6 separate regions of the Homo sapiens genome follow, and all the other regions are reported to be linked to region 1. Evidence: microRNA targets listed by miRTarBase, many of them from high-throughput screens and not tested one by one. Region 1 holds a microRNA gene; each other region holds the end of a gene's coding sequence.
The links. Region 1 holds the annotated microRNA hsa-miR-574-5p (UGAGUGUGUGUGUGUGAGUGUGU, at 3,235-3,257, shown strand). A microRNA usually pairs through its seed, bases 2 to 8, with sites in the 3' UTR of a target mRNA and lowers its output. Matches are read on the target gene's strand: a 7mer-m8 pairs with bases 2 to 8, a 7mer-A1 pairs with bases 2 to 7 and ends in A, and an 8mer does both.

Region 2: the mRNA of DNAJC6 is a reported target of hsa-miR-574-5p. The part of its 3' UTR that is shown has no 7-base or 8-base seed match.
Region 3: miRTarBase lists EHD3 as a target of hsa-miR-574-5p. The part of its 3' UTR that is shown has no 7-base or 8-base seed match.
Region 4: miRTarBase lists SEC23IP as a target of hsa-miR-574-5p. The part of its 3' UTR that is shown has no 7-base or 8-base seed match.
Region 5: the mRNA of KCNK12 is a reported target of hsa-miR-574-5p. The part of its 3' UTR that is shown has no 7-base or 8-base seed match.
Region 6: the mRNA of CLIC6 is a reported target of hsa-miR-574-5p. The part of its 3' UTR that is shown has no 7-base or 8-base seed match.

The regions. Positions count from the first base shown.
Region 1 is chr4:38,864,822-38,869,910 of GRCh38, forward strand. It overlaps MIR574 (microRNA 574), which reads left to right and starts at 3,211; the gene lies at 3,211-3,306. It overlaps FAM114A1 (family with sequence similarity 114 member A1), which reads left to right and starts at 2,985. Exons shown (of 15, transcript NM_138389.4): 1 at 2,985-3,013; 2 at 3,577-3,725. It also overlaps a transcript of TLR6 not described here. RefSeq lists silencers at 2,749-3,228, 3,279-3,328 and an enhancer at 3,536-4,119.
Region 2 is chr1:65,412,489-65,417,577 of GRCh38, reverse strand. It overlaps DNAJC6 (DnaJ heat shock protein family (Hsp40) member C6), which reads right to left. Exons shown (of 19, transcript NM_001256864.2): 19 at 1,707-4,654. The coding sequence ends at 4,553. It also overlaps the pseudogene RNU2-15P. Among named protein-coding and RNA genes, the nearest start is that of LEPR, 5.6 kb to the left of the region's middle. RefSeq lists an enhancer at 4,738-5,032.
Region 3 is chr2:31,265,864-31,270,952 of GRCh38, reverse strand. It overlaps EHD3 (EH domain containing 3), which reads right to left. Exons shown (of 6, transcript NM_014600.3): 6 at 1,502-4,776. The coding sequence ends at 4,249. It overlaps LOC124905983 (a long non-coding RNA gene), which reads left to right and starts at 5,013. Exons shown (of 4, transcript XR_007086270.1): 1 at 5,013-5,089.
Region 4 is chr10:119,932,720-119,937,808 of GRCh38, forward strand. SEC23IP (SEC23 interacting protein) reads left to right here. Exons shown (of 19, transcript NM_007190.4): 17 at 286-448; 18 at 967-1,068. The coding sequence ends at 1,048. Among named protein-coding and RNA genes, the nearest start is that of MIR4682, 23 kb to the right of the region's middle. RefSeq lists an enhancer at 1,348-1,517.
Region 5 is chr2:47,516,851-47,521,850 of GRCh38, forward strand. It overlaps KCNK12 (potassium two pore domain channel subfamily K member 12), which reads right to left. Exons shown (of 2, transcript NM_022055.2): 2 at 1-4,958. The coding sequence ends at 4,057. It also overlaps a transcript of MSH2 not described here. Among named protein-coding and RNA genes, the nearest start is that of MSH2-OT1, 8.2 kb to the right of the region's middle. RefSeq lists a silencer at 4,089-4,358.
Region 6 is chr21:34,715,560-34,720,648 of GRCh38, reverse strand. It overlaps CLIC6 (chloride intracellular channel 6), which reads right to left. Exons shown (of 6, transcript NM_053277.3): 6 at 2,426-4,328. The coding sequence ends at 4,167. Among named protein-coding and RNA genes, the nearest start is that of LINC00160, 19 kb to the left of the region's middle.

The DNA.
Region 1 (5,089 bases):
GGCAACACAGCAAGACCACGACTCTACAAAAAAATTTAAAAATTTGCTGGGTGCAGTGGCACCCTGTGATCCTAGCTCCTTGTGAGGCTGAGGCAGGAGGATTGCTGGAGCCCAGGAGTCTGAGGCCGCACTGAGCCGTCATCACACCACTGCACTCCAGCCTAGGTGACAGAGTAAGACCTCATTCCTAAATAAGAAAGAAAGAAATATGGGTGGGAGGGATATACAACCACCTCAAGAAAATGGCTACCTGCAGAGATGGTGGACAATGGAAGGGATAGGGTTTCAAACATATCCGTAACATTTTTTTCTTTGCAAAGAAAATTCTAAAATAAATACTGCAAAAAATTTTGTTAAATCTAGATATCATCATAGTATTTCCTATATTTTTTACACAAATAAGTATTTGTCATATTATTCTTTACTTTTCTATATATTTTAAATACTCCAGAAAATTTTTAAATGAACTTAAAATGTTTTACATTGCAAATAAATAAAATATCTGAAATAAAATCTGGTAGTCCTGGAAGCAGCTACATGAGTAAAAGGGACAAATTTGCAGTGGGCAAAACAAAAAACAAACTTGTTGCCAGGATAGTTTGCTTTATTTTCTTTATTGGATAGGTGTGGTTTGGGTCAAAGGAGAAGAGGAACTCAGCCCTTTAAAAAGAGAACATCTGATTGGGCTGTTACGGCACAGCAGGGAAGGGAAGGCAGGTTAGCAAAGGTGCTTGCTGTCTCTGGGCAGGAGCAGAAGTCCCAGGCACAGACGTCTGTGTATATGCTACACCAAAACACACCTGTTGCAACTGGAACATAATTTGATAACACTCGCAAAGCCAGAACTGGAAGGGACTGTGCCGAGCAATGCTCTTTATTTTAGAGGTGGAAAAACTGAGTTACAGAAGCCACGTGTTAGTTAAGGTTCAAAGTCTCGCTCAATTCAAAAAGGCTATTGATCTCAATTTAAAGCAGTTTCCACCCACTCTCACATTAAGATAACTTTCTGGTTTTTCTATGAATTTAAAAATGACAGGCTGGGTGTGGTGGCTCACGCCTGTAATCCCAACACTTTGGGAGGCCGAGGTGGGCAGATCACTTGAGGTCAGGAGTTCGAGACCAGCCTTGCCACCATGGCAAAACCCTGTCTCTACTGAAAACACAAAAATTAGCCGGGTGTGGTGGCACGCACCTGTAATCCCAGCTACTCAAGAGGCTGAGGCAGAAGAATCGCTTGAACCCAGGAGATGGAGATGGTGCCACTGCACTGCAGCCTAGGCCACAGATCAAGACTCTGTCCTCCTAAAAAATAAAATAAAATAAATATTCAGTAGCTTAAAAAATTATTAATATAAAAATATTTAATAAAAATATTAAATAAGAAATATAGCCAGGCACGGTGGCTCATGCCTGTAATCCCAGCACTTTGGGAGGCCGAGGTGGGTGGATCACCTGAGGTCAGGAGTTCGAGACCAGCCTGGCCAACATGGTGAAACCCCGTCTCTACTAAAAAATACAAAAATTAGCCGGGTGTGGTGGCACGCACCTGTAATCCCAGCTACTCAAGAGGCTGAGGCAGGAGAATTGCTTGAACCCAGTAAGCAGAGGCTGCAGTGAGCTGAGATCACGCCACTGCTTTCCAGCCTGGACGACAGAGCAAGACTCCATCTCAAAAAAATGAATTAATAAATTAATTAATATATATATGGAAGAAACTGGAATATAAGGAGCAAACTAATTGTCAATAGGAGAATGATTGAATGAAATATAATTACAAACATATTGCAATATATAAGACAAGTCTTAGAAGAGTGGTTTTGGTTGATATGTATTGACCAAGAAAGATGATTATAATATATAATAAATAGGGGGAAATTTACAAAATACGTCAACATCTCGCCATTTTTATAAAAAAGCAAACAAAAAGCTGTTTATGCATACATGTATTTATATAAGCTTAGAAAAACTATGGTAGGATCCACACACTATAAAAAATGGTAGTGATATTGAAAGGGAGAGACTAGGGCTATTTTTTCTTTAACTTTGAATTTATAATTCTTCAAAAAGAAGAAGGGATGGAGTGAGAGAGGAGAAAATCTGCCTTAAACACATCGCTCAGAAAGAATCACTATTTTTAAATTGTATTTCCTCCGACTTTTATAGAAAATACAAAATTGTTTACAAAACTAGTTAATACTATAAACACTGCGCTTCCTCCGCATCTGAGTTCATATTAAGCCATATTTGAGGAAGGCCTTCATATGTGGCCTTCCCTCCATGTCAACGAATCCTCATTTTTAAGGGCTACAACATATTCGATGTCTGAAGTTACTGTAGCTTACTTCACCAATCTTACTGGGGGACATTGAGATTGTCTCCGGCTTCCCCCCGCAGAAACAACTACAACAAACATCCTTGTACATACATATTTGCCCATTTGACTGCCTACTTAGGACAAATTCACAAATGTGGAATTCCTAGGCCAAAGCTAATACATCGGAGTTTTAACCCACAGCTCCAAACTGGCCTTCTGGAAAGTGGGTTTTCGTTGTTTGTTTGGGGTTTGTTTGTTTTAAATCTATCACACTCCCACCGACAGGGCAAGGGAGTGCTGCTTAACGCAGAATCAGGAGATCAAACTTTAGCTGAATTTGAGCGACCTCTTCCCAGTGACACGGCGGGGGGTTTTCCAAGCCCTTTTAAGGAAAGGAAAGGGATCTGGCGAACCCCGAGACCCACCCGCCCTGGGCTGGAGAGGCGGCGCGCTCTGGCTTTCCGCGCTGGCACAGGGGTGGGACAAGCCAAGTTTCCAGGAGACTCGCCCAGCGCGGGCCCGGCCCTCGCAGCGTGGGGGTGGCCGGGCGTCCCCGCGGCGCTCCTCGTGGGGCGGGGCGCAGGCGGGGCGGGGCCCCCTCTCCAGCCGCCCGCCCTCCGGCCGCGTCCCCGCCGGCCCTGCAGACGTGGCGGGGCGGGACCCGCTGGGCACTCCCGCGCGTACTCGGCCGCCTGAGCGGTAAGAGCCCCGGGCACTCGGTCCCCATCCCCTTCCCCGGGGGGCGGGCGAGCGCGGGGGCGGCTGCCCGGGGGTGGTGGGAACACCATACCTTGGCGCCTCGTCCGGGACCCACGAATCCTGCCCTCTGCGTTAGTGAGAAGCAGTGGTCAGGGAGGACCCGGCTCTGGGGTGAGGGTCTGGGGCGGCGCGGCCGAGGGACCTGCGTGGGTGCGGGCGTGTGAGTGTGTGTGTGTGAGTGTGTGTCGCTCCGGGTCCACGCTCATGCACACACCCACACGCCCACACTCAGGGTCTGCCCCCTCGGCCTGCGTGAACCTCCGCGGAGCCTGCCTGGATCTCCCAAAGTATCCAGTCCTGGCACCAAGCAAGTCTGGAAAAGTGCCCCCAATGGCTCGGGGCCAAGTCAGAGGTGGGCTGCAGGGTCCCCCAGCCCGGGCACGAAGGGAGCAGGTCCCTGTAAGACAGAGGCCTCGTCCCAGGGTGCGCCTGCCCTCGGCCTTGGCACAGGGAGCTCAGGCCTTGACCTCCCCGCTCCCCTCGCCTTACTCCTCCCCCAACAGCCGACCCACGCCCTGCCTGCTCTTCCAGTCCAGCCAACACTCTAAGCAGGCACCGCCTCCACTCGCAGCCCCCGGGATGGGTCCCACTCCCTACCGCAGATCCCCAGGCCCCCTCCACCCAGTCGGCTAGCCCTCGCCTCTGCCATCCGGTGAGTATTTCCAGGCACCTCAGACCAGGCGCCTGAACGTCACTGCCTTTTCTTAAGTAGGAAGACATCTCTCTATGGGCTGTGAGAGCATTACCTATGCCCTACTGATCCCATCATTTCCCATCCTAAACATCTTGAAGGACACAGGCAGGTGGCTTCTTAAATCAGTGTGCTCTGAACTCCCTGTGACCTCAGCCAACCTGTGACAACTGAGAATGAGACAGGCTCTATCCTCAGAGCCTCTTTTTGCCCTCTCTGCAGCCTAGTGGCTCCTTCCCTACCCCACCCATAGGCCTGCGTCCCCGCCCTCCTTTCTTCCATCAAGCCTGAGCTTGGGAAAGAATCTGATAAACTTCTTACATTGTAACCTTTAAGTGAAGGAATGAGACGTTAGGGATGGATTTGAGGCACAAGTGAGACAGTGCAGAAGGAATTTGAGGGTTGGAGGGGGCTTTCTTGAATCTGAGCGATTCAGACCATAAAAGTAAACTTGTCTTTGTTTATTTGACCAGGCTTACATCAAACATGGTTTCTCTTTTATTAATATCAAACACAATGTATTTCAATTCAGTAAATATCTGAGGGACAGAAACCAACCTAGGTGCTGTTGGTCACAGTCTTGGAGGACAGAATGGCAGAAGTAAATACTCCATAAATACATGGAATAGAAATCTGTGCAAAGTGCCAAAAACATAGAAGAGGTAGCAGTTATTTCATTGGAAGCAGTGGGGCAGATTAAGGAAAAATTCAGAATGAAAGGTAACATTAGACACTGGGTGTCTAGAGGAATAGGAGTTTGCCAGGCAGCTGGAGGAAGGGCAGCACCGGGGCAGAGGAACCAGCGTAAGCAAAGGCAGGGAGATGTGAAGAGTTATGGGGAATGGAGAAAAGACTGGTGAGGCAGGAGTGGAGGATACTGAGAGTTGCAAGAGGTGGAGAGAGATTGGAGCTGGATTATGATGGGAAGTGTGAAGATATTTACACCTAATGGTTTTTGAACAGGAGAGCAAATAGGTCCAAAAATGCCTGGCAGCCTCACAGAGAATAGGCTGGAGCCTGGGTACGTAGACTTGTCAAGCTTTATACAAACTCATACAAACTGCTACAACCTGATTAAGAGCCTCTCATCCAGAGTTTTTATTCCTGGTCCTTCGCTGACTGGCACTGTTTTTGTTTTTTTTTTTTAACTGGGGGAGATGACCTCACACAGGATATCATGCTAACCAAATTTTTATGCTGCCAAGTCAGGCCATTTTTTTTAAAAAAATCCATCCACTGTCACTATTTCATAAAATGAAAGACATTTTAATACCAAGAAAAAGCACAAAGGCTAAACTTGAAAGATGAAGGCAGTCCTTTACATT
Region 2 (5,089 bases), not on the chromosome of region 1:
ATAGTCTCGCATGATAAGCTAGGTTTTATTGCCTCTATCTTACAGATAGGAAAACAAGCTCCCAGTAACCAGTGAATAGGGAAGCTGAGATCAAGTCCCAAACTGTTCAGCTCTAAAGTCAGATGGTCAGCACTTGTACTATTCCCCACAGTAGATCTTATGCACCAAGAAGCAAGAATTCTTGTAGTAATTAGAAATAACAGTAACCTCTTATGCTTCACAGGGCATCAAATCCATTCACTGTCTTAATTTTCTCCAGCATATCTATTAGCATCTTGCATACAGTATACACAAAATGTTGGCTGAATTAACAAATATTAATAAGTTTACCATACACAGTATCATCTCTCCCTATCCTCAGAAAAAAAAAAATATATAGCCTCAAGCTCCAGCTCTGGGTAAATTTCTCCATGCTTTAGCTTCCTGAGGTAAGATTTACAAAAACCTGTCTCAGAATCTTTGGGGGAATTAAGTGAGAAAAAAATATATATAAAACATATATATATATATATGGTAACACCTAGGGCAGTGCACACAAGATAAATGCCAGGATGTTATATCTACACTGGGGTAGGCTTGCAAGTCAGTGCATAAGTTAAATGCAAGAATGATGCAACACTAATTGAAATCCGTAAATGTTGGTTTTCCTTCCTAATGCTCAATCACTACTTCTTTTTACATAGCTATTCCCTTTACAGAAACTACAATGCAAACCTCTTTGCCATTTTATGTAGACAGATCTCTGTAAACCCAAGGAGATAAGGAATAAGGACCAAGGTAAAAGTAACTTTGGGTTGCCTTTTCCTACTTGTGTCACTCCCTAGAATATGAGGTTTCCATGTAATTCCAGCTCCAATACCCACCTACAGTGATATACTTTGTCTTATTTACTATCAGTAACAATAACAATAATTACTATTTAGTGAGTACCCGCTTGTTAAGAGTTTATATACACAGTTCTTAATTCCTCCATTGCAGGGTTGTTAGAATTCTATTTTACAGGTGATAAAATTAAGACTCAGTTCAAGAAACTTGTCCAATATAAGAGTCTGTAAGGCTTGGCACAGTGGCTCATGCCTGTAATCCCAGCACTTTGGGAGGCTGAGGCTGGAGGATCACTTGAGGCCAGGAGTTCAAGACCATCCTGGGCAACACAGCAAGACCCCGTCTGAAAAAAAAAAAAAAAACCAGGCATGGTGGCTCTCACCTGCAGTCCTAGCTACTCAAGAGGGCTGAGGAGAGAGGATCACTTGAGCTCAGGAGTTAGGGGTTGCAGAGAGCTGTGACAGACCCACTGCATTTCAGCCTAGGTGACAGAGCAAGACTCTCTTAAAAAAAAAAAAAAGTCTATAAATGGAAAAACTAGGATTTAAACCCAGTCTTTTAATCTCAAACCAACATGTATCACTATTCCCAAAAACCATGATTTATCTTTAGAATAATCAAAATCTGCTACTTGAGCCAGCTTCCCTGATAGGTGTTTCCAGCAGGGAGACTGACTTGTTGCTGCAATAACTATTTCTGGAATTCAAATTTTGTCTTTTGTTGTTGTTGTTGTTGTTTTAGTGAGGCGGAGGTGAACTATTCCTGCAGTTACTGCATTACCAGGCTGATGTGTGGAATGGGTGGGGGAAACTCCTATTCCATCTCCCTGCTCCACAAAATCCATTTAAAATATTGTACATGGATAGAAGACATATCAGATGTTAAACTGATAAAATTAGATGCTACATTTATTTTAGCCAAAAGGCCAAAAAGCAATTGGAATTCAACTTTTTTGCTCATTCCCTACACAGACTGTGTTTCATTCACGGCATTAGGATTCAACTTGAACATTCTTCCACATGTAGATAGTACAGTGACAGGTCAAATGCTTTTGAATTACAGCATTTGTTTCCAAAGAACTAAAATATCTGAGACTTTGTTTCTATGATAAAGTCCCAGACTTCCAGGTTCAATCCTTTTGCCTCAACATACAGATTCGTTTTTTTGAAAATCCTTTGATTTTTTTGGCTAGGAGACCAGGATTTCTATGCTAATTCTTTTTGAAACATATATCATGTAGCATAATCAAAATCATGTGTGCGTGCATGTGTGTGTGTGTGTGTGTGTGTGTGTGTGTGTGTGTTGGGGCAGGAGTGATTACGTATAAATCCAGAAATCCTGTCAGATTACATTTTGGTGCATGCTTTTTGTATTCTCTCCTCATAACTTTCCTTAAAAGTAAATCATGTCAGAAGGTGGCATTCAAGCTCCTCATTGTATTCCTACAAGTACCCAAATAACTTAGATTTATACAAATATTTTTGAACCTTTTAATATACATTACAAATATTTTAGACCAATCACATTTTGTTGTAACATATTTACAAAACAAAAAATATATTACAATAAATATGATGAAACAGTGAATCTGATCAACAACAAGCTTTGTCACAACCAGTTATTTAAAAGGAATGCAAAGACCTGTTGGTCTGCATATATTAAGAGTTTTGAGATAAATAGGGGTCCAGAATTATAATGTATCCGGAAAAGAGATGTGGGGGAAAATCTCCAAATTTAAGTAAGATTCTTTCTCATTGTAATTACATAATGTTTAATGATGTTTTAAACTGTGAACATTGATGAATTATCCAAACATGATACAAAGCTAATGTAGTTCTATCATTTCAAAATACGTGACATCCACAGAATATCCTTTTAATTGTTATCATTATATACTGTAGTTCACACAATATCTACAAATGTGAATGAGAAAGAAAAACAGGTCACAGCAACATGTCTCACATTCCAATTTTAAATAAGACAAGCACATACTGGATCAAACATTATTTTATAATACGTTAATAAATAACACCTAGTTTGTTATGGTTACCTTGAACAGTTTATGACTGTATATTTAAAAAGAGAACATTTTCTTCGAGTTTCACATTGTCAGTAAAAGGTAAAATAAATAATGAACTTTAACAAACAAACAAACAAAACAAAAGAGAGAAAGAGATCTATGTAGAACCTAAAGTATTTTTGACATGCCGCTTTTCCGGTATAGCTTGCCACAAGAAAGTTAAAACAAAAACAAAAAATGATTGTCTTTTCAAAACAACTTTTAAAAGCTTTTCACAATATTGAGCATGAACCTTTGAAGATTAGCATGAAAATCTTTTTGCCCATCTGCTTTGTGGATATATTTAATATATATGTATAATGCACATTGTATATGTGCACACAAAAGAGATCTACTAAAGTCACAGAATAGCAAACTGCTTACCCCTTAAAATGAGAACCAGCCAACACACTGATCTGAATCCAGCCAGTCTGAGATCGGGAAAGCATTCATTCTTGCTTTGCTTTCACAAATGTCCCTGTATGAATGTCGTTCCTGTGGATCCCCAACCACTTTTAAAACAAAAAAGCCCACTGTAATAATTTAATGGGTCTAGATTTGCCTTGTGGGGAGGTGGGACCTGGTTCCTCAGAGCAGATACTGACAAGCCATCTGACTGGGTCTGCAGGTGAGTGCAGCTCTCTCACTGTGATCGTGCCATTCCCTTAACTCCTATTCAGTGTTGCCTTCCATTCTCTTACCACAACTGCTCACAAACCTAGAGAACACTGAGTCCACACTAGATATTGGTCCTGATAAGTTGTGAACAGGCCAAACTACTTTACCACCTGTTTCCAACTAAGAATGTTTTCTTGGCTAAACAAAAGAAGAGCATTAAGCCTTACAGCAAAATTAGATGTTTCATTTAAACCAGGTTTAGAGTTGTTATAGTAGTAAGACTTTTTATTTAATTAATCACAGTTTTCTAAAGGGAAAGAAGGGTAGCGGCCCACCTTCCTAACCAGGAATAAAGATTTCGACATCTTCAGAGTCCCTATTTTCTTTAGCCACCATTTTCATTCATTTTTAGCTTAGTCAGAAAGTTGGTGGTAATCACTGGACTGTAGTTTAATCACTGGACTATTATCACTCCCCACATTTCAAGTTCCTTTATATTTGTTAGTTCTCTTGACCAAAAGACATTTACAGTATTATGCTAAAGGCCTTAGTAAATTTTTACTTAAAAAAAAATACCTGGTGGTTTTGTTCTTGGAGTCTGCATAAAGCCACTGCTCAAATTATATCTTTCCAAGAAAAATCTAGAAACCATTAAACCATCATATAACTCTATTATCATAACTTTTGCTCATTAATCCTATTCTCAGACAATGTGATGGGTGTTATGCCTTCATGGGTGGTGGCCTCTGTTTTCCATTTCCCCAGGTAGAATGCTGAGTAGGCTCCCCAAAGGGCAGGGTGGAATGCGGTGGTTCTGCAAGGTCATCTGACTAGAAGTTCCTCTCATGCTTTGGATCTTTTATGGTGGGAACTTTGGAGAAACCAAACATCCACATTCCTTATCAATGAGAAATTAATTCATGAGTAACTTAACGGTTTAGTACTGAAAACATGTTACTGGAGTTTTTGGTTCATCTGCGAAAACCTCAGAATTGTGACACACACTAAGCATTAGCACAGGTCTGCAGCAGAGATGGAAAAGCTCATAAATTAATATAAGGGCTTTTGGCCTTGGTTTTCAAATTCAGACCAGGCATCATTGAGCTCCATGAAAATCATCTTTGCGTATTGTTCATAGGGTTGCCCAGTAGCCTGTAGAGAAAACAAAAACACACATTAGATACCACAGACCAAAATTTCATTAATATTAAATTTTTCACTGCCAATATATGGGCTCTAAGCAATGGAAATGTTTTTCTATTTGGCCATTTCTCCTTTTCAGCCTAATCTACTATATCTGACCCAAATTACTATAACCTCCCCATAATGACCTCCCCCTAGAAATGCACAAGGGTAGTAGTAATCCATCAAGAAGTAGACAACAGAGAGCTTATCAGGCAGCACAAGACGTATCTCTGTTCTCCAGACGTATCTGCCAAATGACAAAGGTTCATGACAGCCCATCTCTATTGACTGTTTTTAACTCCCATTTTCCCATTTCTAAAAAGTTCTTTGAGAGTCATAATGGGGAATACAGTTTGTGGATTTTTCTGGGCTCTTGTTTCTCCTTCTCTTTTGATTCATCAA
Region 3 (5,089 bases), not on the chromosome of region 1:
GTGGTTCTCAGTCTGTCATGATTTAGTGGGCTGAGAATGCTCTGTGTTGTGTTTTATGTAAAAATTCTGCCTGTCTTCCTTAGATCAGGAAGGAAGAAAACAGGCCCAAGAGGTTGGCCCCAGACGGTTTCTCAGTTCCAGTGCCCATCCTGCTACAGGCTTTCTCTGACCACCTCCTCCCCAGTTTGAAGCCATTTCTGACTTTCTTGAGCATCCCCCTTTCATGTTCCCTCACCGTATTATCAGTGTTTGCATAAGTGCCTCATCCCCTCTACTAGGCTGTGAGCTCTTTGATCCATATAGAATTGTCTCTACACTCAGGTAGACTTTATATTGAGTGTTTTTGAATGACTCAAGGAATGAATCTCTATATTCTCCCTCAGGATGTTTTCTGTAAGAGGTGCTCAGCATCTTTTGAATATAAAAAAGATCGATGGATGAATGGATGGAGAAATTAAATAAAGGATTGAGGATGTATAGACTCCAGACAGCATCACATAGGAAGAATAAACAAGCCTATTCTCTTCAGGTCATTCAGCAGATTCTGATGAGTTAACTCATAAATACAGGTTTTGGAACCAAATGGAAGTGGGGATGACTCAGGGCAACCACTCATCACTCTGCAAACCAAGGCCCATGCCCTGCTATGGTTCAGTGGTGTCATCTGGAAATATTCATGTAAATGAGCACCCCAGTTTTCTAAGAGCTGTTTTTTTCTTCCTCTCTTCTTTTTTCCATTTCCTGGATTCCCAACTTCCTAGGTAGCCCTTTAGAAATGCAAATATAGGCCTGGCGCAGTGGCTCTCGCCTATGCCTGTAATCCCAGCACTTTGGGAGGCTGAGGTGGACAGATCACTTGAGGTCAGAAATTCAAGACCAGCCTGGCCAACATGGTGAAACCCTGTTTTCACTAAAAGTAAAAAAAAAAAAAAAAAATTAGCCAGGCGTGGTGGTGGAGTACCTGTAGTCCCAGCTACTTGGGAGGCTGAGGCACAAGAATGGCTTGAACCTGGGAGGCAGAGGTGGCAGTGAGCTGGGATCATGCCACTACACTCCAGCCTGTGCGACAGAGTGAGACTGTCTCAAAAAAAGGGAAATGCAAATATAAGCTTTCATCTCCCCTTCACTAGACATTCCCTACAGGGCAAGTTCATCTCTCTGCTCCAAAATAGTCCTCCAGAATTGACTGCCAATTTGCAGACCAAAACATGCCCTCCTTGAGCTTTCACCTCCAGGGGTTGCCTTGGAACTCCCACCCTCCAGGGGCTGCCTCAGGACTTTCATTCACTAGGAGGTTATATCTAAAGTATGCCTACTTGGCCACTTTTAAAATTTATTTTTGCCCAGGAAGGCCCGACTCAACTGTCCAGTAGATAAGGCACCATGCTATCAGGCGGACCCTTGCTCACTTGCTCCCTTACCTTATAAAAGTGCCTGCTTTCTGCTCCAAAGGGGAAGCGGCACATTGAAAGGCAGGACGTTGTGTGCCCCTCCTCCAAGCTAGCTTTGGAATACATTCACTTTATTGGTATCAGACTTTACTCTTGTCCGTGGGACTTTGCATACATTGAGCAACTAACCCGCATTTCAGTTACATTCATGTCACACTTTGGTCATGATTTAGCTCTTTGGTACCAGGGGCAAGCTTTGCTTGGTCAGTAGCATAGGGTGTTGCTGTGTTTATTGGATGGATTCCATGGCCCAGACTGAGTAATGTCGGGGCAAGGAACAACAGGACAAGTGCTCTAGAAATTCTTGTCTGTGGGGCTGACATGACATGTCTCTGCTTTCCCTATTAAATGTTTCCTGGGCTGAGGCATGAGATCTCCCAGGCCCCTGAAGCCTGGAAGGGGTCAGAAAGCCAAGGCAGCAAGGCTAGAGGGCACTGCCAGGGAAAGTGACCCACATCTGTCCCCTCAAACATCAGTTCCTCTTTCCAGGGAGATGGGAGCTGTGCAAACATGGAATTCCCACACCTCACAGGTCTCTCCTGGGTGGAGACTTCAAGATGGAGAGAGGGAAGAGAGGCAGCATATGTAGAAGGGCAGGAAAGTGGCATGTGTGTCCAGTGGCAGTGAAGAAAGGGGATAACAGACATCTCCCTTTCCTATAAAATAAAAAGACAGGAACTTCACCTACCTCTGCTATTTCCTTCCCATTTCTCCTTCAGCTTGAAGAAAGGTGTGGAGTTGAGAAATGGTCCCTAACCTGCACTCGGCACTCAAGGGTTTTCTCCAGAGCAGGTGAGACCTCTTTGCCTGGCCTTTGTCTGCCCTTCATTTCATGTGAAAGAGAAATGTGTATTTGCAGAAGGAAGCCCAGGGGCTTAGGGAACATCTTCACTCCAGAGGAGCAGGGAGCGGTGGCTCCACCAGCTGTGCCTGGGTTGGTCACTGAGCCTAGACAAACTCCAGCCCACTGGGAAGCTGGTTGTGGATGCTGGCCATTGGGTGGCCCCAGTGAGCCCTTTCCAGCCAAAGATTTCACCAGGAACTCCAAGTAAGAACCCAGCCCTTCTCCCTCAGCCTCCATTGAATGATGCTCTGTGGCCAGGCAGGTACCAAAGAATAAATGTACTGTATTAACATGAAGACTAATGACAAATGCACTGCAGTAGTAAGCACGTCATAGATGCATAGAATATTCTCTATATAGTCTGAATATGGATATAAAATAAGTTATACTCATTTTGTTTTCCATCACAGTAGGAGCATAGCATACAAAGTGATTGGTTCAGTGGCCATGAAGCAAGCCAGGGGAGAGACCACAGAAGAGAATGTAGGGCATTGAGTACAGTGGGGATTTGCCAAGGACACTGCAGAGTCCCTGGGGACCCTCTGGGGAACAAGGCCCCAAACCTCTCAAGTTAGCCTTCTGAGAATAGTATGAGGTCCCACTTGACAAGAGACAGTGGCTGCATCTGAGCTGGGATGATTCAGGCAACTGGGTGGGAGGCAGAGCAGGGACAGGCACGAACAGCATCCAGCAGGCTAGCCCACTCTCCTGCTGGTGCTGTTGGATGTCTATGATGCTGGGAATATGGGGCGCAGAGCCAGAAGGCACGGTTTGCTTCTGTGACGTGACAGATGGCCAGACTGATGGGCCACCAAATGCTGGCCGGCCCTCCTCCCTTGCCAGCCTGTCCTGGGAGGCTGCAGGGGGCCTGCATACTTTGCTTGTTCTCCATAGTTTGTCATTGGGTATCAATGCTGGGATCCTGCATACATCATAGCACAGACAAGTGTGTGAGGGTCTGAGGCCCTGGCTTTGAATCCTCTCTCCATCACGTGACTTCTGTGAGTTTCAGAAGGTCGCCTAAACCCTTCTGAGGCTACTCAGCCTCCTCAACTGCAAAATGGGAAGGCTAATGCATACTTCCCTGGGGCATCAGTGAGGGCCACATAGAATAATGTATATAAAGTGCCTAACACAGCTCCTGGTACGCAGGAGGGGCTGGGTAAATGTGAGTCAAGTATGAACATCTAAACATCATAGGCCAGGTGGAAAGAACATCTAACAAAATCTATGAACTAAAACCACCTTGACTGGTTTTCAATAGACTACAGGACAATTTCCTCACTCTTATCAATTTTTTTCTCTTCTCTCTCCCGCTCTGGGATTCTTTAAAATGAAATACTGGCAGAGTTCAAAGCAAGGTTTGCCGAAGAAGACAGAGGCTTAGATTAGGAAAGAACAGAGCTCCTGGGCCAATGTCTCTAGAAGACGCTTCCTTTCTCACCTCTCCTCCCTGCAGCTGCCCGCCTGCCCTCAGATCTCCTAGCTCTTGAATGGATTTCTTATTAGGAAGCCAAAGCAGATAGGGGAAGCACAGAAAAAGAAGTGAATTGTCTACTAAATGAAAAGTCTTTTCCATTTGCTCAGAGCCCGGGTGTGGAAGCACTGGGGAATCTGGAGGTGGGTTGGCCATCTGTGCTGGCAAGTGAATTGCCTCAGGTCTGGTATCTGGGGAGTGGCCGAGGAGAGGGGAAGAGCGATAGAGACTTAGGCTTAGACTCTGGGGCCTGGGAGTGCTCTTGTCCTTCTAATCCCGAGAACTTGGAGGTGTGCCCAAACAAGTATCAGCTGCAAACATGGGCGTCATGGTCCTCTCTCACCTACAGAGCAATGTCAAGATATGCATATGTGTGTGTGCATGTTTGTGTGTGTGTGTGTGTGTGTGTGTGTGTGTGTAGTCACCGCTCCCATCTCCTCCTCTAACACTGCCCGTCTGAATGTCCCCCCACCCCATCACTCGGCAACTTTCCTCTTGGACGGGGGCAGGAGGTGGGCAGGCAGCTCGTTGGGCAGCTCGTGCCCCTCCAGCTTGACTTTGATGAGGTGGTTGGCCAGTGCAAACTCGTCGTCGTCCAGCATGCCATCCTTGTCAATGTCGGCCAGCTTCCAGATCTTGCCCAGCACACTGTTGGGCAGCTTGGAGCGCACCATCTCCTTCTTGGCATTAGCGCCTGTGATCTTGCCATCCACCGGTGACAGGGTGTAGAAGATCTCGTCGTACATGGGCTTGTCCCTGGCCACCACCCACTCAGCATCATCGATACCTTCTCCAGCCCCCTCCCCATAGCCATGCCCAAAGGGGCCGTGCAGGGTGCCCTCGAACGCTCCGCCCTTCACCATCTGGATGGGCCGCTGTGACTCCTCCTGGCGCACTAGCACCATGAGCTGGGCAATGTCATGGGCCAGCATGTCGTCCACTACCTCCAGCAGCTTGCTCTTCAGCGGCTGGAACTTGCTAAAGTCCTGGGCCTGCAGCTGGTCCTGGGAAGAGGAGGAGAGAGGATGAAGATAGGATACGATGAAAGGAGAGCCCTCCATTTATCACGTGCCTCCTATGAGCACCAGAATGTTCACAGCTGATCCCTTTCTACAATGAAAGACCTGTGACCTAGAGGCTCAGCTGATGGACATCACGTGGTAATCGAAGGTATGAGAGAGGAGGGGAATAAAGGCCCACTGGGCTGATGATGGGATTTTTCAGTAGGGGGTAGAAGGGTTGTAGGGGCTGGGGAAGAAAGGGAAATTTAACAAGTATTGGCATGATCTATTTATTTCAATCCCCTTCAATGTCATT
Region 4 (5,089 bases), not on the chromosome of region 1:
ATGTTTTTGACTTCTTCAGATTCTAATCCTGTTTCCTTTCTTTCTACAATGCTTTCTCACCCCTTATCTTCACAACTTCTCTCAGCTTGTTGGCTCTTTTCTCCTCTCTCTCGGGTAACCAGCCCCTCTTCCCCTGGCTCTTTGGAGGAACGGGGAGTGAGCCTGGTAGCTCCTCAGGTTGCTACATGCGTCAAGCAGTATTCTCATTGAGCCCAGAAAGTCAGCTAAAGTCAAAGGATAAAGATTAAGTGATTGACTTTGATATTGAAATGGTTTAAATTCTAGCAGAAAAGGTTGTTGAAAGTCCAGATTTTTCCAAGGATGAGGACTACTTAGGAAAGGTTGGAATGTTAAATGGAGGCCGCCGAATTGACTACGTTCTCCAAGAAAAACCAATAGAGAGTTTTAATGAATACCTTTTCGCTCTTCAGAGTCACTTATGCTATTGGTAAGTGTTCTTAAATTTGGTAACATTTGAGTGGGCTTTTGGTGCTAGCACGTGCAGCAATTTTAGTTTTAGTGAGATTCTTTTACTGATACAATGTACTATGAATATTCATTTGAATTACTATATGTTCAGAATCGTTATTTTTCCCCCTTAGTTACCCACAAGATGGCAGTATGTCATCTGCTTTTGACCAAAGACCCTTGGTTCTTGCACACTGTTTTTGTGGGAATGCCTTTCACAGTGGGAGTGGTAGGGACTTTGAAATGCCATTCTTTCCTGTATCCCTGTCACCAAGGAGAATTGCAACACAGCTATTTTGGAGCTAATCAGTATTCATCTAGTTTTTAAGGACAGCTCTGAGATTACGCTGCTTTATTTATTACACTGAGATTACATTGCTATCATTTGCCCTTCTTAGATAGAGTTGAATAGAATAGAACCTGCATTTTCAACCATTGTGCATAGAAGTTAATTTCTTCTAATTGTCTCTTAAGTAAATATGCTTTTCCTTTTCATAGGGAATCTGAAGATACTGCTCTGTTACTACTTAAAGAAATTTATCGAACAATGAACATTAGTCCAGAACAGCCCCAGCATTGATCAAACTTCAGTTTTACTGTGTGAGTTTATCCTTATTGAATGTATAAATTCTGAATGTTTGCATTCTCAAATCTGTTGTATGGAGTTGATGTTGACTGATTTTGCTTTTTTCTGTTTCCTCTGAGTTTTTGTCGTCGTTTTTAAAAATTTGCAATAGAGACATTAAGGAAGATAATTGGTTTGTAATTTACATTTCTGATTTATTACAGTCTTCTTTCTAAATTTACATAGAATTTGAGTTATTTTTAGTTTCTTTTTAAAATAGATTCCCAAGAATATCAGTTAGGAATTCCTTTGGTTGCAGGTTCACAGAACCCAGTTTACAATACATTAAACAAATAGAGGTTTATTTTTCTTCCGTAACAAGAAGGGTTCTTCTGTTGAGTGACTCCACCAGATACCCAGAGTGCTTGCCTCTTCCCACCTGAATGTTGGCTCTTGCTGCCTCATAGTTATAAGGTGCCCCCATGGTTGCAGATACCATATCTACATTCACAACATGAATAAGAGGGGAGAGGGTAGTACTCCTCACATCTGTCGCTCTTAATTAGGGAAGCAGAAGCTTGTCCAAAAATTTACTCATACCTATTGACTAGGCCTGTGTCTAATGTCCAATATCTCCAGTCTGTATGAAAGATTGTAGAAGTAATGTTTTGAGCATTCCCAATCTTTATAGAGGGAAAGAATAGAGAAGGAGGTTAAGTCTGTGATGGGTCAGCTGACGTGCAGCTCAGCCACACTCTGTATTCCTAACTGTCCTCCTGAGACACCAGATACCTGGTTTTCCTCACTAGATTATGCATTACTTTTAAAAACAAGTAATGTGTTTTTTACAAAGTTAGAAATTTTAAAGGCTTTGAAAGAATCAGACACAAAATGCTGAGCTCTAAATTACTGAAATCAAAGGAAGTTCCTGCCATTTTTGGTTTTCTAATAGTAAGTGGTAAATGAACATTCCCTTCAGCCTCATCTTCTACCTCCTCGTTTTAGAGAGGTAAGTACTTTTAGTAGGGCTTCCTTAGAGAAAGTTTTTTGGCTCCATTTCCAAAATTAAACTTGTAACAAAGTAAAAGAAAACTAAAGTGTAGGCCAGGCATGGTGTCTCACACCTCTAATCTCATCACTTTGGGAGGCCAAGGCGGGCAGATCACCTGAGGTTAGGAGTTCGAGACCAGCCTGGCCAACATAGTGAAACCCCGTCTGTACTAAAAATACAAAAATTAGTCGGGTGTGGTGGCGGGTGCCTGTAGTTGGGAAATGCAAGGCCAGAAGTGAAAGATGGCTTTCCCATAACTCATCCCCAACCTCCCTGCCTAGAGGCAGCCAGTGTTCCACGTTTTGTGTATCCTTCCAGATATCTGTTAACACATCACACACACTTTTAAGTTTTTCTTTTTTAAAAGACAAAAGAGGCTGGGTGTAGTGGCTCACGCCTGTAATCCCAGCACTTTGGGAGGCCGAGGCAGGTGGATTACTTGAGGTTAGGAGTTCAAGACTAGCCTGGCTAACATGGTGAAACCCTGTCTCTACTAAAAATACAAAAATTAGCCGGGCATGGTAGTAGGTGCCTGTAATCCCAGCAACTCAGGAGGCTGAGGCAGGAGAATCTCTTGAACCCAGGAGTTGGAGGTTGCAGTGAGCTGAGATTGCGCCACTGCACTCCGGCCTGGATGACAGAGTGAGACTCTATCTAAAAAAAAAAAGACAAATGATAGCAAAATTGACACACCGTTATTACCTTTGTGTCTTTGAGATTGTCCCATATCTATCTATCCATCCATTCATCCATCTGTCCGCCCATCCGTCCATTCATCCATCCGTCCAGTATCTGTTGAGCACCTTACTTAAGTGCCAGGTATTATTTTAGGTATTGGGTTTCACAGCAGTGGACCAAAGCCTCTGCCCTCAAGGACCTTTTTTCCTCTAATGGAAGGCAGACAGCACGTGGACAGTTGAAATGAACCACATGGTAAAGACTGAGCAGCTGGACAAGGAGGAGAGGAATTCATTTGGGATGGGTTCAAGTTATTAATGTATATAAGATGGCAAGGGACCCCCTTCACGGGTAAAGTAAAGTGTCATTTGAGCAAGCGAGCCAGGTGGATATCTGGAGGAAGAAGACCACTTCAGGTGGAGAGAAGAATCTGGATCAGAACATGAGAGTGACCTCGTTCTTTTTAGGTATTCCATTGACTATTGCACCATAATCTGTTTAAGCAGTCCCTACTGATGGGCATTGAAGTTATTCTAATCTTTTATTAGTATGAACAGTACTACAGTGATACGTGATATTTTAATAGTTGCATTTCATTCCATTTTATAGTTCTTTTATTAAAATACTTTATTTTACCCCATTGTTGGGTGTTAGATGATTTTCCAAATTTTCTCCATTATAAATAACTCTGATATGTAGTTTTACACACTTTTTGCCAATCTCTGTTTGCTTTGGATACATTCTTAGAAGCAGTGTTCTTATTTCTGAGAATATTGCATATTTTGAAAAGATTTTTGGCTGGGTGCGGTGGCTCATGCCTGTAATCCCAGTTTGAGAGGCCGAGGCGGGCAGATCACTTGAGGTCAGGAGTTCGAGACCAGCCTGGCCAACATAGTGAAACCCCGTCTCTACTAAAAATACAGAAAAATTAGCAGGGTGTGATCTCACCTACTTGGGAGGCCGAGGCAGGAGGATCTCTTAAAACCTGGGAGGTGGAGGTTGCAGTGAGCTGAGATTCCACCACTGCACTCCAGCCTGGGCAACAGCATGCGATTCCGTCTCAAAAAAAAAAAAAAAAAAAAAGCTTTTTGATCCCTACATTTTGCTAAATTGCATTCCAGAAAAGTTGCTCAATTTTCATATTTACCATCAGTATGTAAAGGCCAGTATGCTTGCACTCTTGGAAACACTGGGTATTACTGATTAAAAAATTTTTTTTTGCTAATTTGATAGCCAGAAATAGTTATAATACCGTTTTTACTTACATTTCTATTATTAGTGAAGTTGAGCTCTTTGGGTGTATCTTAACTGGCTGATTATATTTCTTTTGTCAGTTGCCTGTTCATGACCTTTGTGTTTTCTTGGAGGTACGGGGTAGGGTCCTTTTCTTTCTTTATTTTATTTTATTTTATTTTATTTTTTTTAAGACGGAGTCTTGCTTTGTCGCCCAGGCTGTAGTGCAGTGGCGTGATCTCGGCTCACTGCAAGCTCCTCCTCCCGGGTTCATGCCATTCTCTTGCCTTAGCCTCCCGAGTAGCTGGGACTACAGGCGCCCGCTGCTGTGCCCAGCTAATTTTTTGTATTTTTAGTAGAGACGGGGTTTCACTGTGGTCTCGATCTCCTGACCTCGTGATCCGCCCGCCTTGGCCTCCCAAAGTGCTGGGATTACAGGCGTGAGCCACCGTGCCCGGCCAGGGTCCTTTTCTTTCTTATGGATTTATAAATATGATACTTAAGGATATTAACCTTTGTCATTATAAGTATTTTTTCCCAGTTTGAAATTAGCCTTTTATTTTTCCTTATACTTTGGATTTTTTTGGCGGCAGTTTGAGGGGAGCATGTTTTAAAAATACGTAGCCCTACGCTGGGCATGATGGCTCACGCCTGTAATCCCAGCACTTTGGCAGGCCGAGGTGGACGGATCACCTGAGGTCAGGAGGTTGAGACCAGCCTGGCCAACATGGAGAAACCCCATCTCTATTAAAAATACAGAAATTAGATGGGTGTGGTGGCTGGCACCTATAATCCCAGCTACTTGGGATGCTGAGGCAGGAGAATTGCTTGAACCCAGGAGGCGGAGGTTGCAGTGACCCTAGATTGTGCCACTGCACTCCCACCTGGATGACAGAGCGAGACTCCGTCTAAAAAAAAAAAACAAAAAAACAAAAAACATAGCCCAGTCTTTTATGATTAATTATTTTTTAGATATTTACATTTATTTTCTTTTTAGTTCTTTTTTTCCCCATTTGGCTTTGTAATTTAGAAGAGTAAGGTGTAGAGAACAATTTAACTTTTTTCTTACATAATCGTTTCTGTCTGTGCCATAT
Region 5 (5,000 bases), not on the chromosome of region 1:
TTGTGCTCTGGGGTGCCTGAAAGTGCCAGAGCTGCTTCAGGGGCAAGAGTCCAGGCCCCAAGTCCATGCTGATGAGCCCACCCTGGGGGTCAGGAATGGCCTCAGCAGGCCCTCCCTCCCTCCCTCTCCACCCTACAAAGTGAGGAGCCTTGAGTCACCACCAGCACATTATACAACAATACAAGAACCCTGCAACAGATAAAGCCCCAGCGCCTCTTCTGGACTCAGATGCCCTAGGCTGGCTGTCTGGCTGTGCTTTCCAGACAGTGTGTATGTGGAATTGTGCTTTTTGTTTTTTAAGAATGTAAAAAGTTACAGTAAGATCGAACCACAGGGCCCGTCGCTCCTATGGTCTCTGCCTGACTGGGCTGCCGTCTGCCTCAGTTCCCCAGAAGCTTCTCCTTTGGCCATGAGGGCTCAGTCATCCCTCACCCCAGAGTCCACAGGAAGAGGGGGTCTGCTGGGAGGCCTGTCTGAAGGACGGAGGATCCTGGGTCAATTTAGCAGCTATTTTCCAGGGTTTGGCTTGGGTTTGGATGCTGGCTTCTGTGTGAAACCTGAATACATGCAAATTGTACATAAAACTCCCCCAAGGCAGAGAGGGATTTTCCAGGCCCTGGTACATCTCTAGAGAGTTAAAAATGGGAAATCTTTCTTCTTAAAGTGGCCCAGACTGAGACTTTTCCTTGGGGAAAAGGGTTAGTAGCTCTTTGTAAGGCTGGTGTGTATGTGTGTGTGTATATATATATACATATATGCATGATGCTGTGCAAATGCCCAGGGCTGTCTGGCATTTTCCACAAAATGAGAGCCTGAGATTGCCTAAGCCTTCTGATGCCTTCTCCAGGCCTGGAGGCACTGCTTCATTCAGAGGACACAAAGGCCTGACCACCTGGCTTTAGCAAGCTAGGACACCCAGGGTGGCTTCTTTACCTTTCTCCTCAGCTCTGAGAAGGCTGCTAGCCAAGACTCTGGATTCTCTGTGGCCACAGTCATATGGTGAGGGCCTCTTGGAGTTCATTCAAACTTTAAGGGAGCCCCACAGCACCGGCATGATGGGTAAGTCCAGGCCTAAGGTTAGGAAGCAAATCCTGGAGCATGAGGAAATTGTAGGCTACAGTGAGCTACCAGTGGTGTGCAAACTGGAGACCCCCAAGACAGTGAGAGAGGCCACAGCATCTGAGGGAATGGAGCTCTTTCTTGGCCTGAGGTTCAGAAGAACCTGCACCAAAGAAAGGCATCCCTATCAATGTCACTGTTCCTGAAATGATGGGAGAACCACATCCCTGCTTCAGGGAAGCAGTCCCTGTCGTCTGGGGCGCTGAGCCCTTTGGCCTGAGATGAAGGATGATGGTGTGATGTATCATGGCAGTGTGACTGAGACTGGATTGGGGGATGGGGACAGGGGAACATAGGCAAAAATACACATGTGCCACTGGATCCTGAGCTGCCATTGTACCTTGGAGGACTGGCGTTTCTCTGGGAAGTTGGGAGGTGGGAAGAGGAAGGGTCTCATTTTCCTGCCCCTTGAAACCATGCTTACCATTCCTTTAGAAGATTGCTCAAGCTGCCTCCAATTGCCTCTTTCCAAAACCAAAGCATAGGAAAACAAGTAAAAACAGCTGAGGCTGCAGCATAAGCAACTTAGGATAGAGTCTAGGAAGCACCGCCAACAGAGAAGACTGCCAAGAAACATTTTGAGTTTTTCTTCTCTGGAGGTGGGTCCTGGTTCCTCCCATGGAGACCACGATTCTGTGTAGTCCTGCACGCTGGGCGGGGGATTGCCTGGAGGTTTCTTTAGACCTGTCTAGCTCACACAGTCTTGATGCCTGGGTTTTAGGCTGCTGTACTGTTGCTGGGGCTCACTTCCTGTGGGTAGGCTGTTATTTTGCCCGCAGATCAAGTCCTCACTGTCTAGATGCCTCTATCATGGGGATCTCTTCTTCCCTCTCTGGATGGCTCTGATCCCCAAGTTATTTCCTGTTGCCTAGGTAACACCTCTAATTGGATGCCTTTTAATCGTTCCCTTTTTTAAAGGGATAAATGTGGATTTTATTTCCAGGTCCTGTCAGAGGGCCCTGCCCTAGAGAACACGTGCGCCCCTGCGTGGGCAATCCCTTCACTGTGACCGCAACCATGGGTTGGATGGGGGGCACTCACTGGGCTGGCCTGACAGTCACAGTGAATCCTGAAAGCATGGTTTTCACAGGAACCCACCTTCAGGATTTAGCAAGACTGACGTCTCTCCTGGCCAGCGCTGCTTCACTGGCTTCACCCCAGATTAGGGCCTGTGTTTAAAAACCAATCCCAACTCAAATCAGAAATTACCCAAAATAGCTGGAGAGTCACTGAGATCTCAGGTAAGCTTTCCCTTCCTGCCATGAACTAGAAGGGGAAAGAAGAGTTTGACATTCAAGTTTGACTCTAATGCTGGGTGCGTGAGCGCATGCGTGCATGTTTGTGTGTGTGTGTGTTCCACGCACATTTGCCAGGGAGAGAGATTTCACAGCATGGCTCCAGCTGGAGGCGGTGAGGCGGTGCTTTTCTAAGACTTCCTATCAGAAGCTGTGCATACTGGTGGGTCACGCCGTGCCTGTATAAACTCTGGCACCTGTCCTTGCCCTCATCATATATGAGAAAAATGGGCAGAGAGAGTGTTCGTTTACACCCCCAGACCACTATCCTTTCAATGAAGCCTGGGTATCTGGCCTTCCTCCAGGTCAGGGACCCCCTATGCTGCAGAAGGCAAGTCTGGGAGAATCTGTCCCTCAGCCCGAGAGCAAAACTGTAATCCTAACATTACTTCCATCCACCAGTTTCACCAGCTACCTCCCTCCTGCCTTCCTCTGCCTCCAATAGGCTGTGCATGGAGAAGACAAATCCTCTTGATAAACAATATTTAGAAAGGGATTCTATCTTTCCTGACCCCAAACACATCATGGCCTCTGGAGCCAAATACCCTGACATTTGCAAGATGGCTTCTTTTGGGTTCCTGGTGCTGCAGGCCCTGGTTCCCAAGGACGCAGCTGGCAGAGGTGCCTCCTTCAGAGGAGGAGGAGGAGAAGCTGGAGGGCTGCGCCCGGCAACCCCATGATCTCTTAAAGGGGGAAAAGTTGAACTGATCAACAGTAGTTAAGAAAAAAAAAATCCACACCAACAAATAAATATCTTGTCTGAGAAGACTCAGATATTCCTGGTTAATATTGAAAAGCACTGCTGTGGATGAGCTTGTGAAAGAAAGGACGGTTGGGGGATTCAAGATCTGCCGATCCGAGCCTGGAGATCAGCCAGCTAAAAGCCCAGCAGGGCTCCTGCAGCCTCACCGCTCCCCTCCTCACAGGTGCCCTGGACCGCCCACCATTAGAAGTAGCTGCCCTGTGCTCTGTGCTAAATGGACTAACTCTGAGCTGAGAAAGGCCAGCTAAGCCCCTCACCACTGCAATTTCCAAATCTGGGGGAAATGCCACAGTCCGCAAGTTGGTGCTATGTTTCATCTCATTGCATAATACTACACCATTCTCTGTGTGTAGTGGCTGTTCTATATATATACATCGGGAGGCAACATATGGCTGTCCCAACCCCCACCTGTCAAAACTGTGACTATATCACTTCTGACGACCAGAAGGAAGCTGCTAGGCTGGGCCAGGATTCTAAATGCTGAGGAGGTAATTCAGAGCCACGAAAAGTTGCACCATATGCTTTGGGGTTGCCGGCTGCTTCTGTGCATGGGGACGGGGTTTAGTGCCAGTCTGCAAAACCCTCCTCGCTGCGGTATGCCCTGGGTGTGGGCCTGGGGGGCCACGTTTTCTCTCCCTGAAGGAGAATCTGCTGGGGGCCACGGTTCTCCAAGAGGGGACTCACAAGGAACACAGGCGTCCCCAAAACCTGCCCTTGATAACATCAGGCCTGGCCAAATAGTATTTCTTTAAAAAAATTTTTTTTGTTTCATTTTATTGGATAAAGATTAAGAAAGCGCCAGCAGTGACTGAGAGAAGCAAACCACGCCCGGCGGCCCCGCGGCCTGGAGAGGGTCCCCGGCGCGGGCGGACGGGCGGTCTACCTGGAGGCGCTGGTCTCGGCCAGCCGGTTGTTCATGATGCCCAGCGCGCCCACGCCGCCCGAGAAGCCGTTCTGGCGCGTGTTGACGCACACGCTGCGCGGGTAGCCGTTGGCCGTCTCCGACAGCTGCTTCTGCAGCAGCGCCAGCGACACCTTGTTGGAGGCCGTGAGGTCGCGCATGGAGATGAGCTCGCCCGAGAGGCGGCGGCCCTCGGCGTCGCTGTCGCGGGCCGCGGGGTCGGCACCGAGCGCGGCCAGGCGGCGGCGCAGCCGGGAGCCTGGGGTGATGGCATTGCGCCGGGCCAGGGGCGCGCCAGGAGCCGGGCAGCAGCGCGCGCAGCAGCGGCAGCTCAGCTTGCGCAGCATCCAGTTGAGCACCTGCTTGATGAGGATGGAGATGACGTTGAAGAGCGAGTAAATGCAGCACACGCCGAGCAGGATGAAGAGGAAGTTGCCCAGGCGGTAGAGCCCCTGGTTCCGGTAGGCGGCGTGCTGGCTGCTCACCAGGTCCCCGAAGCCGATGGTGCTGAAGGTGACGAAGCAGAAGTAGAGCGAGTCCACGTAGTCCCAGCCCTCCACGCTGGTGTACATGGCCGAGGCGCAGCAGGACAGCAGCACGGCGAACAGGCCCAGGATGAGCAGCACGTGGTACACCGAGGGCTTCCAGCCCGCCAGGCTGTCGGCCTCCGAGAGCGCGGAGCCGCGGCGGAAGGTGGCGGGCAGCAGGCCGCTGCGGCGCAGCTGGCGCTCCCGGCAGGCGCGCATGATGAAGGCCAGCAGCGAGATGATGCGCTCCAGGAAGAGGTTGAAGAACAGGATGGTCCCAGCGCAGCCGAACAGCCCGTAGGCGATGAGGAAGGCCTTCCCGCCCACCGTCGCGGGGGTGGTCATGCCGAAACCTGTGGAGACAGGGCAGGGTCAGCGCGGTCCTGGCCGCGCAG
Region 6 (5,089 bases), not on the chromosome of region 1:
AAATACCAATGTGTGAAGGGAAATTGGCCACAGGATAATTGAGACTTACACCCATATATGGAAAGAGAAGTCATTTTGTCATGTGAATAGCATCCCCCAATGCATCCATTTCATGTATGTAGGGCTTTGTTAATTATGTGTGCTTAGAATGAAGGACATCTTGGTTCTCTTAACTGTAAAATAAAAGAAGGGTTGAGATTTTCTTGTAAAAAAAAAATTTTTTTAATGCCTGCTGGACATGGTGGCTCATGCCTGTAATCCCAGCACTTTGGGAGGCCACAGCGCATGGATTGCTTGAGCTCAGGAGTTTGAGACCAGCCTGGGCAACATGGTGAGACCCTGTCTCTACTAAAAATGCAAAAAAAAAAAAAAAAATAGCTAGGCGTGGTGGTGTGTGTCTGTGGTCCCAGCTACTCAGGAGTCTGAGGTGGGAGGATTGCTTGAGCCTGTGGTGGTGGGTACTGGGGATGGGGTGCAGAGATGCAGTGAGCCGAAATCACGCCACTGCACTCCAGTCTGGGCGACAGAGTGAGACCCAGTCTCAAAAAAAATTAAAATGTAAAAAAAAAAGCCATTAATCTAAAATTTTCCAAAGCCTAATTATGAACCACTGGAAGGGGGAACTTCAGGGCAGGGTGGGTTGTGCTAAGAGTGAGTTACTGCTTACGACTGGGGGAGGGTGAGAGGGGAAGGAGTTCATCCTGCATGCGGGGTGGGGGTGGAGGGTGTGCATGAATGTCTGTCTGTGGGAGTGTGCTTATGAGTATGTGAGAGTGTGTGACAATGGTGTCACAAATTGGTGTATACACGTATGTGTGTCTAGTGTGTGTGTGTGTCTGTCTGTCCGCCTATCTTGGGGGTGAAGGGCTTGAACATATAATCAATTCTTAGAGATAGACTTATAGAATGGAAATGATTGAGACCTCTGGTCTCTGGAAGTCCTCTTCTGGGCGGATTCTGTCATTGCATTTCCGTATGCTGCAGTATCCACAAAGTAGAACCTTGTGATGCTCTCATGTTCCCTTCCAGCCTGCTTTAGGACATTCTGTGTTCTTAAGGAAAGTTTGGAGGCCGGGCGTGGTGGCTCACACCTGTAATCCCAGCACTTTGGGAGGCGAGGCAAGTGGATCGCCTGAGCTCAGGAGTTTGAGACCAGCCTTGGCAGCACGGTGAAACCCCATCTCTACTAAAAACAAAAAAATTAGCCTGATGTGGTGCCCTGTAATCCCAGCTACTTGGGAGGCTGAGGCAGGAAAATCGCTTGAACCTGGGAGGCAGAGGTTGCAGTGAGCCAAGATCGAGCTACTGCACTCCAGCTTGGGCGACAAAGCGAGACTCCATCTCAATTAAATAAAAAAAAAGGTAAAGTTTGGGTTTTTATGAACTAATTTTCAAGCCTCTCGGGCAACTAGAATTGAGAATGGAATCCTCTCCGTCCAGAAAAACTTCCACACAGCCTGAAAAGAAGAATTTGTTCATTATTCGTCCATGTTTACATTTTGTATGGTATCTCTTGAAGAACAAATGCATTTTGTTTTTTAAAACACACTGTAATGAAGATTTTGGTCCAGCAGAACAGCTCTGGAATATTTCTTACCTCCTTACACACATGTAGGTTTTTAGGAGAATCAAGAGGTGTGGGCTGGGGGCGGAGCTGAAGGCAGAGTTGGGACAGGGCTGGGGAAGACCACCCAGAACCAGCTCCTTTCCTACAACTCCACGTAAAAGTAGAACAAGAACACCCAGCAGGGTGTCGATGCCAGTCACCTGGACAAGGACTGTTCATGGGTGTCTTTGGAGGCCTCTTTAAGGTTCCTTTAAAATGTCTTTGTGATTCACAACTGAAGTATGGATTGTCTCTAATTCAAATGCCCATAATCTCAGGTTCAAACTTGCTCTCACCATTATTTTATTTTATTTTATTTTATTTTATTTTATTTTATTTTATTTTATTTTATTTTGTTTTTCATTTCATTTCATTTCATTTCATTTCATTTCATTTCATTTCATTTCATTTTGAGACAGGGTCTCACTCTGTTGCCCAGGCTAGAGTGCAGTGGTGTGATCTCAGGTCACTGCAACCTCCACCTCCCAGGCTCGAGGTATCCTCCCACCTCAGCCTCCCTAGTAGCTAGGACTACAGGTGCCCACCACCATGCCTAGCTAATTTTTGTATTTTTAGTAGAGATGGGGTTTCACCAGGTTGGCCAGGCTGGTCTTGAACTCCTGACCTCAGGTGATCTGCCTGTCTCGGCCTCCCAAAGTGCTGGGATTACAGACATGAGCCACTATGCCGGTATGCCAGGCCTGTCCTCACCATTTTAAAAGAAGCCCATACCATTCATTTTATTTCTTGAAACCTAAATGGAGAATGGGGAATGCAAAAAATAATAAAAAATAAAAAATAAAACCCAAAAGAAATTGGTTCCATTTAAACATTTTTATAATTTGTTTCATTTTCAAGGCACAAAGAGTTTATGTCAATCATTTTAATGTCTAAGAATACAAAGTTAGCACTAGTAACATCTGGTAGTCTAATCATTTATCATGCTTAAATGTAACATTACAAAACTACATTTTAAAATCTGCCCCCTAACCAGATGTGAAACAACGTGGACAAGGGTGACATGTGCTAGACCCAATCTCCAAAAACGTATGGTTGACAAAGACAGCTGACTGCTGGGGTAAAACTGCAGCAGTCATAATCGAAGAGCGAAAGAGGCCACTCTATTAAAGACTTTGTTTCTTTTGCTAGACATTTTTCACCTAATCCCAGGATAGTTTCTGTTAATGCATCTTACTCTCTTTCAAACGAATCGTCCCTAGAGCAGGTGTACACATTAAAAATGAGCTTTATAGCATCAAACACATACCACAACCAACTCTACAAGGAGGGTTTTCTGTAAGATGTGTACGACTGTCCGAAGAACACATTCTGGCTGATAAGTCTCAGCTCCTGTGAGGTCCTGATGAGTATCTAAACAACCTCACATTTTCTCTTCCACGCCTAGGGTTAAGGCCAGCACTCAGCCCACACACAAAGCTGTGATGAGAGGTTGGTTAGGGATGGTGGAGGCAAAGCCACAGATCAGCCAGAAACTCTTTTGAGTCAATAGTTTCTACTCCCTCCCTAACTGGACCGTTTACCAGAACTGCCCAGGACTTGTCACCATGAATTTAATCTCCCTGGATTTTCCCTGCTTGATGTCTAGATGAGACAATGAAGGGCAGAGAAGTATTGCTATCCCCACACGATACCACCAGCACTGAGGGACTGCAGCCTTGGGTCTCAGAGAGAGCCGCCCGGAGAAGGAACCAAAGTGTGCTTGGTTCACATTTCAGGGCAGGGAGGTTCTCCAAGTTGCAGCAGATATTAAGAGTCCTGCTGAAGGCACAGTCTCTAAGAGAGGGGAGGGAGCAAAGACAGGAAGCTGGAACCAGAGACACGGATAAGCACCCTCCCCCTTGCCTTTCCTGGAAGCAGAGGCAGTGGCATCCTGGAGGCAGAAATGAGGCAGAGTGGGGGTGACCCAGGGCTTCCGGTTCCTGCTGGTCATTGCGTGCGCATCTGTGGGCTTCACAATTCCCCACTCCTTAAAATCTAACCTCAAGCATCTTCTCTGGCACTGCGGTGCCCAATATTTTTGTATGGTGTAAGTCCTCTGTGTATGATCATCCAGGAATCACCAAGAGGTCCCCTCACCAGTGCTTTAAAATAAAATAATGCAATACCATATATGAATGAAATTGTGTGTGTGTGTGTGTGTGTGTGTGTGTGTGTGTGTGATAGAGAGAGAGAGAGAGAGAGAGAGAGAGAACAAGATACTGAAGATTTGGAACATGTTCTCCAGTAAGTTTTCGGTAATTAAGTGGAGTAAAATTGAAGGCGATTGTTAAAATGTCCTTCTTTACACCCTCTGATATTGCTTTAAAATATCAAGATAGGTGTGTCTCATTTTGTAATTACAAAGCAGTATTTTCATTTTGAAGAAAATTAAACTAATGTTTTAGAGAAGAAAAACAGGCTCTCAATGATTTAAAAAACTCTCAGAGACCAGTTTTTTAAAAATTGAAGGAATTGAACCCAAACCTAATTTGTTTTCAAACACACTGTTTTCGTATCCTTGCTCACTCAACTGAGAAATAAGACAGAAAACAGCCCAGCTTCATTTCATTCTTTTTGCAACATCTGAATATGCGTGTTCAATCTCTTGATCAGCTGGACACGTATTTGTGAACTCATCTCTAGCATAAGCATTATTCAAGTATCTCCAGATGCCAGTCATTTCAGAAGGAAATTCAAAATCTCTGTACTTCTTGGCCACAATCTGAAAATGAAGAGAAAATGATCAGTAAAGGGAAAACTTGCTAAGGTAGGCTCCCAAGTCAGACAGTCCATTCTTCTGAGGCATGCAATACATTCTTTCCCAGTTTCCCATGTCATCCCACAGTCATCCGGGCTACCCACCACGGCATCTTGACTTGCATAGGGCCATCTTGGGTGTGAGGAGGGCTATGAAGTTCCTGTACTCACTACAGTGACTGCACATAGTTCTGCCCACCAGTTTGTCACAGATGGGTCTTGGAATCCGCTGGCACGAGTATGCTCTGGACTCTGGTGGATTTCTCTTTGTGTTGCCTGTTACTTTCTTTCCATATGTTGTGCTACTGTGTTACTTGGTGCTATGTGAATAAAGACGCATGGTGGATCTGCTGTTTAAATGGTGCCCTCTCTTCTTCCTACTTGCTGAACCTCACTTCTCCAGTCCCAAACATCTGTGCATGTTAATCCTCCTGAATGCCATCATGCTGCCACTAAGAGCATCGTCTGATCGTGGGGCCCGCCTGTGCGGAGGAGAGATTCATGAACAAAGCAGATGCAAATCCCTACCCTCATGGGGATGGTGGGTGTAAGGAAGAAGCAGTCGAGAGACAGCACCAAGAGAAACACAGCAGTGTGAGATACTTCCTCTAGCAAGAGGGGTACAGTTGGGGAATTAGTCACAAAGATGTGCAGAACACTGGGGACTGTACCAGTTTGCTAGGGTTGCCATAATAAAGTAACACATGCTGGGAGGCTTAGAACAAC